Homo sapiens: one gene and its partner. The protein of the gene in region 1 interacts with the protein of each later gene in a biochemical or structural test. Each region holds a gene or a part of one and is shown on either strand. Other genes may lie near its edges.

What was found.
Region 2: the proteins of RABEPK (region 1) and RAB9A form a complex in vitro, tested with the Homo sapiens proteins (one study listed by BioGRID).

What each region holds. Positions count from the first base shown.
Region 1 is NC_000009.12:125,231,283-125,234,720, reverse strand, and holds the end of RABEPK (rab9 effector protein with kelch motifs), read right to left. Parts: intron 2,126-3,438; coding exon 1,976-2,125; intron 1,034-1,975; coding exon 741-1,033; 3' UTR 560-740; downstream 1-559. UniProt on the Homo sapiens protein: Rab9 effector required for endosome to trans-Golgi network (TGN) transport.
Region 2 is NC_000023.11:13,705,952-13,711,146, reverse strand, and holds the end of RAB9A (ras-related protein Rab-9A), read right to left. Parts: intron 2,427-5,195; 5' UTR 2,401-2,426; coding exon 1,795-2,400; 3' UTR 643-1,794; downstream 1-642. UniProt on the Homo sapiens protein: The small GTPases Rab are key regulators of intracellular membrane trafficking, from the formation of transport vesicles to their fusion with membranes.

The DNA of each region.
Region 1 (3,438 bases):
GGCAAAACCTTTTATATATATATATATGTATACATATATATGTGTTTATGTATACATATATAAATACATGTATATATAAATATGTATACATATATATGTATACATATAAATATACTATATATGTATACATATATATGTGTGTATATATGTATATATATATATATTTTTTTTTTTTTTGAGACAGAGTTTCGTTCTTGTCACCCAGGCTGGAGTGCAATGGTGTGATCTCAGCTCACCGCAACCTCCGCCTCCCGGGTTCAAGCGATTCTCCTGTCTCAGCCTCCTGAGTATCTGGGATTACAGGCATGGGCCAGCACACCCGGCTAATTTTGTGTTTTTAGTAGAGACGGAGTTTCTTCATGGTAGTAAGGCTGGTTTTGAACTCCCGACCTCAGGTGATCCACCTCCTCAGCCTCCCAAAGTGTTGGGATTACAGGCGTGAGCCACCAAGCCTGGCCCAAAGCCTTTTATGTTAATGCAGTGGAGGTTTTTGCATTGGGCAAAACTTATCTATCTACCACAGTTTGCAAACCAGTCACTGAAAGTCATTCCCAAGAGCTCTGAGAGGCAATATAGCAAGGTTTAGTGCACATAAGAATTATTTGCATTAGTTTCTTCACCTACCAAAGTAGGAGAAAAACAGATATATAATGCAGAAGATATTTTGGAGGTATAAAACAGCTAATGTTTTACTTAACTATTCTGAAAGTAACTGACAGGTAATAAAAATGTGGGTTTTATTAGTCCACTACAGTCACAATACAATCGTCATAGATTTCCCCTTCTGTATTCATCCCACCAAACACCAAACAGAGCAGTGTAGCAGTCTGGCTTTCCTCATGTGAGTCACCACTGTGGCTCATTACTTTGTCAGCTGAATCCTCTTTCTCAGCTTCATGGTTCAGAGTGAGAGAGTTGGAATCTTCTTTCTCAGAAGCACACGTCACTGGCCATGGAATGATACACATGGAATGGTCCAATCGTCCAGGGGGTAGAAGAGTATCAAATTTAAGCAAGGTCCAATGCTGCTCTTCTATGTTGGGGAGGGAAAAGGCTTCATGTTAAGAAATTTCCAGATAGGCCGGGCACGGTGGCTCACGCCTGTAATCCCAGCACTTTGGGAGGCCGAAGCGGGTGGATCACGAGGTCAGGAGATGGAGACCATCCTGGCTAACACGGTGAAACCCCGTCTCTACCAAAAATACAAAAAAAAAATTAGCTGGGCATGGTGGCGGGCACCTGTAGTCCCAGCTACTCGGGAGGCTGAGGCAGGAGAATGGCGTGAACCCAGGAGGTGGAACTTGCAGTGAGCCAAGATCACGTCACCGCACTACAGCCTGGGCGACAGAGTGAGACTCCATCTCAGACAAAAAAAAAAAAAAAAAAAAAAACAATTTCCAGATAGTGAAAGCCAAAATCTGAATAAAATTTAAAAAGTAATGAAATTTCTAGAAATGCTCAGTGATTTACTGTAGCAGCCGAGTCCTAACAAACAGGAGTAAAAGGAAAAAAACCTTATGGCAGCATTGCTGCTTTCCTGATGTCATCCCCTACAGAGTTTTCATTCTTTTGGATTTAGATATAGAGGAACCAAATTGGAAGCACTGCATCACTTTTTTCTTTCTTTCTTTTTTTTTTTTTTTTGAGACAGAGTCTCGCTCTGTCACCAGGCTGGAGTGCAGTGGTGTGATCTCAGCTCACTGCAACCTCTCTGCCTCCTGGGTTCAAGCAATTCCCCTGCCTCAGCCTCCCGAGTAGCTGGGACTACAGGCGCCCGCCACCACGCCTGGCTAATTTTTTGTATTTTAGTAGAGATGGGGTTTCACCATGTTGGTCAGGATGGTCTCGATCTCCTGACCTCGTGATCTGCCTGCCTCGGCCTCCCAAAGTGCTGGGATTACAGGCGTGAGCCACCGCATCACGTTTCAAAGAATGTTTAGATTTGTTTAAAGATCCCCCATGGACACCTGCTCACCTGTGTGATACTGGTACATTGTGTCCAGTGCTCCTGCAGGAGTCATTCCACCAAAGATGTACACATGTTTTCCCATGGCCACAGCTGAGTGGGCAGCACAGCCTGCTGGAGCAGCCCCAGTGGGATTTAGCTTCTGCCATTTCATGTCACCTGCCAAGAGAAAGAAAGAGCTTTGGCGCAGCATGGGCTAAGATGTGCTTTCAAACTTATCTATCTACTGTAGTTTGCACACCAATCACTGAAAGTCATTCACCAAGAGCTCTGAGAGGTTTAGTGCACATAAGAATTATTTGGGGAACTCTGACATTATGATTGGGTAGTCCAGGGAGGAAGGCAGGGAGGGGCTCAGTGATTCCCAGAATCTCAGGCGATTCTGATGTAGGCAGTCTTTGGATCACACAGAAATGTGATACAACCTTTATAATAACAGTCACCTTCAACCATTCACTATTAACTGCCTCGAATTAGCTCAGTTTCTCTCTCTCTCTCTCTCTGTCTCTGTGTGTGTGTGTGTGTGTGTGTGTGTGTACTTTAAATACAGTTCCTGGGCCGGGCACGGTGGCTCACGCCTGTAATCCCAGCACTTTGGGAGGCCGAGGCGGGCGGATCACCTGAGGTCGGGAGTTCGAGACCAGCCTGACCAACATGGAGAAACCCCGTCTCTACTAAAAATACAAAATTAGCCAGGCATGGTGGTGCATGCCTGTAATCCCAGCTACTCAGGAGGCTGAGGCATGAGAATCGCTTGAACCTGGGAGGCGGAGGTTGCGCTGAGCTGAGATCACACCATTGCACTCCAGCCTGGGCAACAAGAGCGAAGCTCCGTCTCAAAAAAAAAAAAAAAAAAAAAATACAGTTCCTTAGCGATTTTGTAAGTGCTGGCTAAACAACAAATTTTGCTCACTTAATTTTCATAACAGCCCTATGAAATTTCTATTACTTCTGCCTATCCCCTTTCTTATTCTTTTTTTTTCCGCTCTGTTGCCCAGCCTGGAGTGCAGTGGCTTGATCTTGACTCCCAGGTTCAAGCAATTCTCTGCCTCAGCCTCCCGAGTAGCTGGGATTACAGGCACCTGCCACCGGGTCTGGCTAATTTTTTGTATTTTTAGTAGAGACGGTGTTTCACCATCTTGGCCAGGCTGGTCTTGAACTCCTGACCTCGTGATCCACCCACCTCGGCCTCCCAGAGTGCTGGGATTACAGGCGGGAGCCATGGCCTGGTGCCTGGCCTCCCCTTTCTTCTTACAAATGAGCAAACAAGAATAGAGAAGGAAAGAGACTTGTCCGAGACCCTATAGCTTGTAAGTGGCACAGCAAGACTGCACTTAGGTGTGGCTCCAAAGCCTGTGTCTCCAAAATCTCTACACGATAATGTGCTGCCTTAGCGCCTACTTCCCACCTATTTTTGCAGGGAAACTTGCATCTTTTCAAACAAGCATTTTTTTTTCTTTTGAGACAGAGTC
Region 2 (5,195 bases), on another chromosome or scaffold:
TAAGACAAGTAATAGTAGGAATGTTTTAACTTCAACTAGGAAACTTTCCCCAAGGGTGAAAAATAAAAACATTTAGTCCATTAATGAATTGTAATTTTGTATCTTCCACACAGCACATTGTAATTGTTACATCAGTTAACAAATGCAGGTTTGTCTGTTCTCCAGTTCAGTAGTTTGCTTTTTTTTTTTTTTTTTTTTTTTTTGAGGTGGAGTCTCACTGTCACCAGGCTGGAGTGCAGTGATGTGATCTCGGCTCACTGCAACCTCCACCTTCCGGGTTCAAGTGATTCTCCTGCGTCAGCCTTCCGAGAAGCTGGGACTACAGGCACGATGCCCAACTAATTTTTGTATTTTTAGTAGAGACCGGGTTCACCATGTTGTCAAGGATGGTGTCGACCTCTTGACCTCCAAAAGTGTTGGGATTGCAGGCGTGAGCCACCGCGCCTGGCCTTGCCTTTTTTCTTAAAACCGAACTGTATCTCTGCTGGGGGCAGTGGTTCACTCCCTACATGACAGTCAGCTCCTCTCACCCAGCATGTCCTTTGATATCCCCATCACTCCCCAGTTGAGGGTCTCATCCACACTCAGTCTAGGCTTTGGTTAGCCTCCATAGAATCAGATAGTCACCAACCACACAGCATATGAACTTCATCCACAAAAGACCACAATTTGCTTTATCAAGTCTGATCACTGCAACAAGTCTTTTTCTAACAAAAAATCTCCTTGAGAGCAAATCACTAAATGTTCAGTAATAGAGAAGACACTAAGTAAATACATTGCCGAATAAAGATGTCTTCGTTTACCCTCTCACAAAGTACAATCCTTCTTAGTATTTCTTCTGAGAGTGATAAAGTCAGCTTGTGTCTTGTGTTATAAAGGAATGTTTTAACTTCAATTAAGAAACTTTCCCCAAGGGTCAAGAAAGTAACAAAAATATTTAGTCCATTAATCGAATTGTAATTTTGTATCTTCCACACAGTACATTGTAATTATTACATCAGTTATCAAATGCACATTTGTCTGTTCTCCAAGTTCAGTAGTTAGCCTTTTTCTTAAAACTGAACTCTATCTATGGAAAGGCTTTCCATTCATAGACAACTTGAATTTAGCTGGATGTATTACAGACTGTATGAAGCAACTCTTGTACCACTGGGGGCCCACCCTCCGCCTGAGACTGTGGAACATGATTTATGGGGGTGGGGGTGCATGAATGGCACACAAATGATGAGTAATTACTAGTGAGAGTAATTCTAGTATGTAGAATGAAAACAGGAATGGTTAAATCATTTTGAAGAGAATGAAGAAGTAAATTAACAATGCATTGCAAATACATTAGATTTTAATCTTTAATATCTAACATTATTGCTTTAGGAAAGTATTTCCCTGAACCAAGAATACAATGCTAATTGCATAAAAACATACACATATAAAAAGTAGTTCTCCATTTTCCCAGGAAAAAATCCAAGTATAACTTCTAGAATAGTCAAGTTTCTTATTTTTATTATAATTAAAGTCTTGGTCATTTCATTTATTAGCTCTGCAACTTACATATTTAAATTAAAGAAACGTTATTAGACAACTGTTACAATTTATAAATGTAAGGTGCCATTATTGAGTAAATATATTCCTCCAAGAGTGGATGTGTCCCTTCTCCCACCAACTAATGAAGCAGCAACATTAGTTTAATTTTATTAGTAGATGATACACTGCTGCAAACGCTAATTCTCTTCTCCATCCCCATGTTGATTTTGTGTATATGTGTGAGTTGGTTAGAATGCATCAACAATCTAACAATCAACAGCAAGATGAGCTAGGCTTGGGCTTTCGGTGAAGATTGACTGTGTCTGTCTGAATCAAATGATCTGACCTATCCTCGGTAGCAAGAACTCTTCGAACCGCTTCCTCAAAGGCTGCTGCCACATTTGTGGCATCTTTTGCACTTGTTTCAAAATAAGGATAGTCGCCGTTGTCCCTGCACCAAGCTTGGGCTTCTTCTGTAGACACCTGCCGTTCGCTTATGTCAATCTTGTTACCCAGAATCACAAAAGGAAAGCTCTCAGGCTCTTTCACATCTGCATAATATATGAATTCTTTCTTCCAGTTACTTAAGTTCTGGAAGCTTTGTGAATCATCGACACTAAAAGTAAGCAGGCAGCAGTCAGAACCTCTGTAAAATGGTGTCCTCAGGCTTCGGAATCGCTCCTGACCTGCCGTGTCCCAAATCTGCATGGTAACAAAATGTCCATCCACTTCCAAATCTTTATTTAAAAATTCCACACCTATTGTATGGAAGAGCTGGGTATCAAACTTATTAGTTACATATCTGTTCATAAGTGAACTCTTCCCAACTCCACCATCTCCAAGGAGAATTACTTTAAAAAGTGATGATTTTCCTGCCATTGTTAATCTCAAAAGCTTCAAGAACCCTGTAAAATAAAAAGGCACCATTACATTCCTTTATACCTACACATTCTTCTACATGATTCTACGAATATCAGCATTTAGCTGAAATAAAACATATGGCCCCAGGGAATACCTAATAATAAGACTTGTTGTTTACTGAGCACTTAGCCATGTGCAGGCTACTATTCTACCATTATTCTCTGAAACAGCTGGGAAGGGCTCACTCTTCCCTTTTCTCAGGTCACAGTTGACTGTGAAGCTGGCACTCAAGCCCAAGTCTGACCCCAAAGCCCTTGCTCTGAACCGTTACTCTATGATAAGCCCCTCTCTGCTCATAGTAAGCCCCACCATTTGTTAGAGATGGGTAGGAGACCAAAGTTCGCATGTTGTTGTTGTTGTTGTTTTGGTTTTGTTTTTTTTTTTGAGACAGGATCTCGCTGTCACCCAGGTTGGAGTGCATGGGACCATCTTGGCTTACTGCAGCCTTGAACTCCCAGGCTCAAGCAATCCTCCCACCTCAGCCTCCCAAGTAGCTGAAATCACAGGTGCACACCACCATGCCTTGCTAATTTTTCTATTTTTTTGTAGAGACAGGGTCTCAACCACGTTGCCCAGGCTGGCTTCAAACTCCTGGGCCCAAGCAATCCACCTGTCTTGGCCTCCCAAAGTGCTGGGACTACAGGCGTGAGACACCATGCCCAGCCCACATGTTTCTCTTAACAACTTCAAACAGCCCTTCAGTGCACAGTGATGGTGTTCACTTAAGGCCTCTCTCCTACCAGGGACTTTCTCTACTACTCCCTCCACCTCTCTTCAGACACAGGTGCTGTTAACCAGGAAAGCCAGAGACAGAAACTGACTTACCTGGCTGTGAAATAAAGTATGAACCAACCACTGAGTAAATGGACTTTATTCTCTTCATTAAGAACATTATTTTGAATTTGTTCAAATTAATGTCAGCAGCAATGGAATTTTTAATATAATCTAGCACATTCTATCCACAAGATTCACTTGGGCAGTTCAAACACTTAAGGAACATGAGACTGCTGCTACTTGTGTGTTTTCAGGTAGAATGAAATAAACCTTAAATGAAAATGTGGTACTATATGTGTTCTTTAGAAGTCCTGTGGCAGGATTAAAAACTTTACTACACTACAAGAGCCAGCCTGTGGGGGGTGAGATTTCAGATGCCCGTTGACAGACAGCTACTTCTAGGTGCTGGTGGGAGCACAGTTCCTGGTTAATCCTTCTGCTTACATTTTTATTGTGAAAAATGTAAAACATGTACAAAATTTCTATATAATGAGTACAATACAATGAGCTCCCATGAACTCTAAACCCAGCTTCACAATTATCAACTTATGGCAAATCTTGTTTCCTCCATAACCCCTCCAACTCTCCCTTCTCCCCAGTTATTTCGAATCAGATTATATCATTTAATCTGTACTTTAGTATTAAATGGTTTTTAAGTATACTAAAATGTATATAAGAAGATAACTATTAGAGCAGCACTGTACAAGAGAATTTTATGCAACAATGGAAATGTCCAATATAGCAGCCACTTAGCCGCATGTGACTGTGGAACACTTGACATGAGGCTGATGGAAGTGAAAAACCGCATTTTAAATTTTATTCAATTTTAAATAAATAGCCACATTTAATGAGCCAATTGGAGAGCACAGATCTAGAGCAAATTTGGTCAATAACCTTAATAGGAAAGTAGGTATTATGAATCCCTCCATGGGAAGGCAATAAAGACATGAACAATAATTGTTATATTGACCAGGATGAATTTGTAAAATCACTGCAGTAAACATTATCTGGCTGTCTCCTGGTTATATGCAATGTGAGCAACTATAGTGTAACTGAACACTTACTGTAACATGTAGGAATTCTGCACTTCTAGCCACATGCTCCACTGTTCTGATAAAAACCTTGTAGTGGCTTGTATAGTGAGAAATCAAGTGAATGGGAAATACTATTAAAAAATGATGGGACATACCTTAGTCCCTACCTCTTACTGGTTCTTTCAAATTACTACTACAGGCCAGGCACGATGGCTCACACCTGTAATCCCAGCACTTGGGGAGGCTGAGGCGGGCAGGTCACTTGAGGTCAGGAGTTCGAGACCAGCCTGGCCAACATGGTGAAACCCCGTCTCTACTAAAAATACAAAAAAAAAAAAAAAATTAGCTGGACGTGGTGGCAAGCGCCTGTAGTCCCAGGTACTAGGCTGAGGCAGGAGAATCCCTTGAACCTGGGAGGCGTAGGTTGCCGTGAGCTGAGATTGCACCACTGCACTCCAGCCTAGGTGACAAAGCAAGACTCCATCTCAAAAAACAAAACAAATTAATACTACAGTAATTACTACTATAATTAATATTAATACAATTTAAACTGTCCAACACAAGTGTGTGGCAGTTAAGGTGCATACCTTTTGAGAGACTTTTTCAATTTCAAATGTATTGCTCAATATCCAGACTATTAATGTTAAAGAGGAAACTGCAACAGTCCCAAGCCCCTTACTTTCCTGACATAGGTAACAATGTGCTAAATTGGCTGCTTTAATTCTTTGGCATCTTGCTTCAACAACTTAAAAAGAAAAGATTGAAAACCATAAAAGCAAACCAACTATTTTGACATAGGGGAACCATCTATCTAATGTCTCCTCAGAATTCTTCAGCGGGTTGTTTCCCAGAGATCCAGGACTAAGTCCAACTTCTAAGGCAAGACACCTGGCCCCTGCTCTTGGCCAGCCTCACTCTAGCCACCTTCCCCTCACAGTCTCTGCT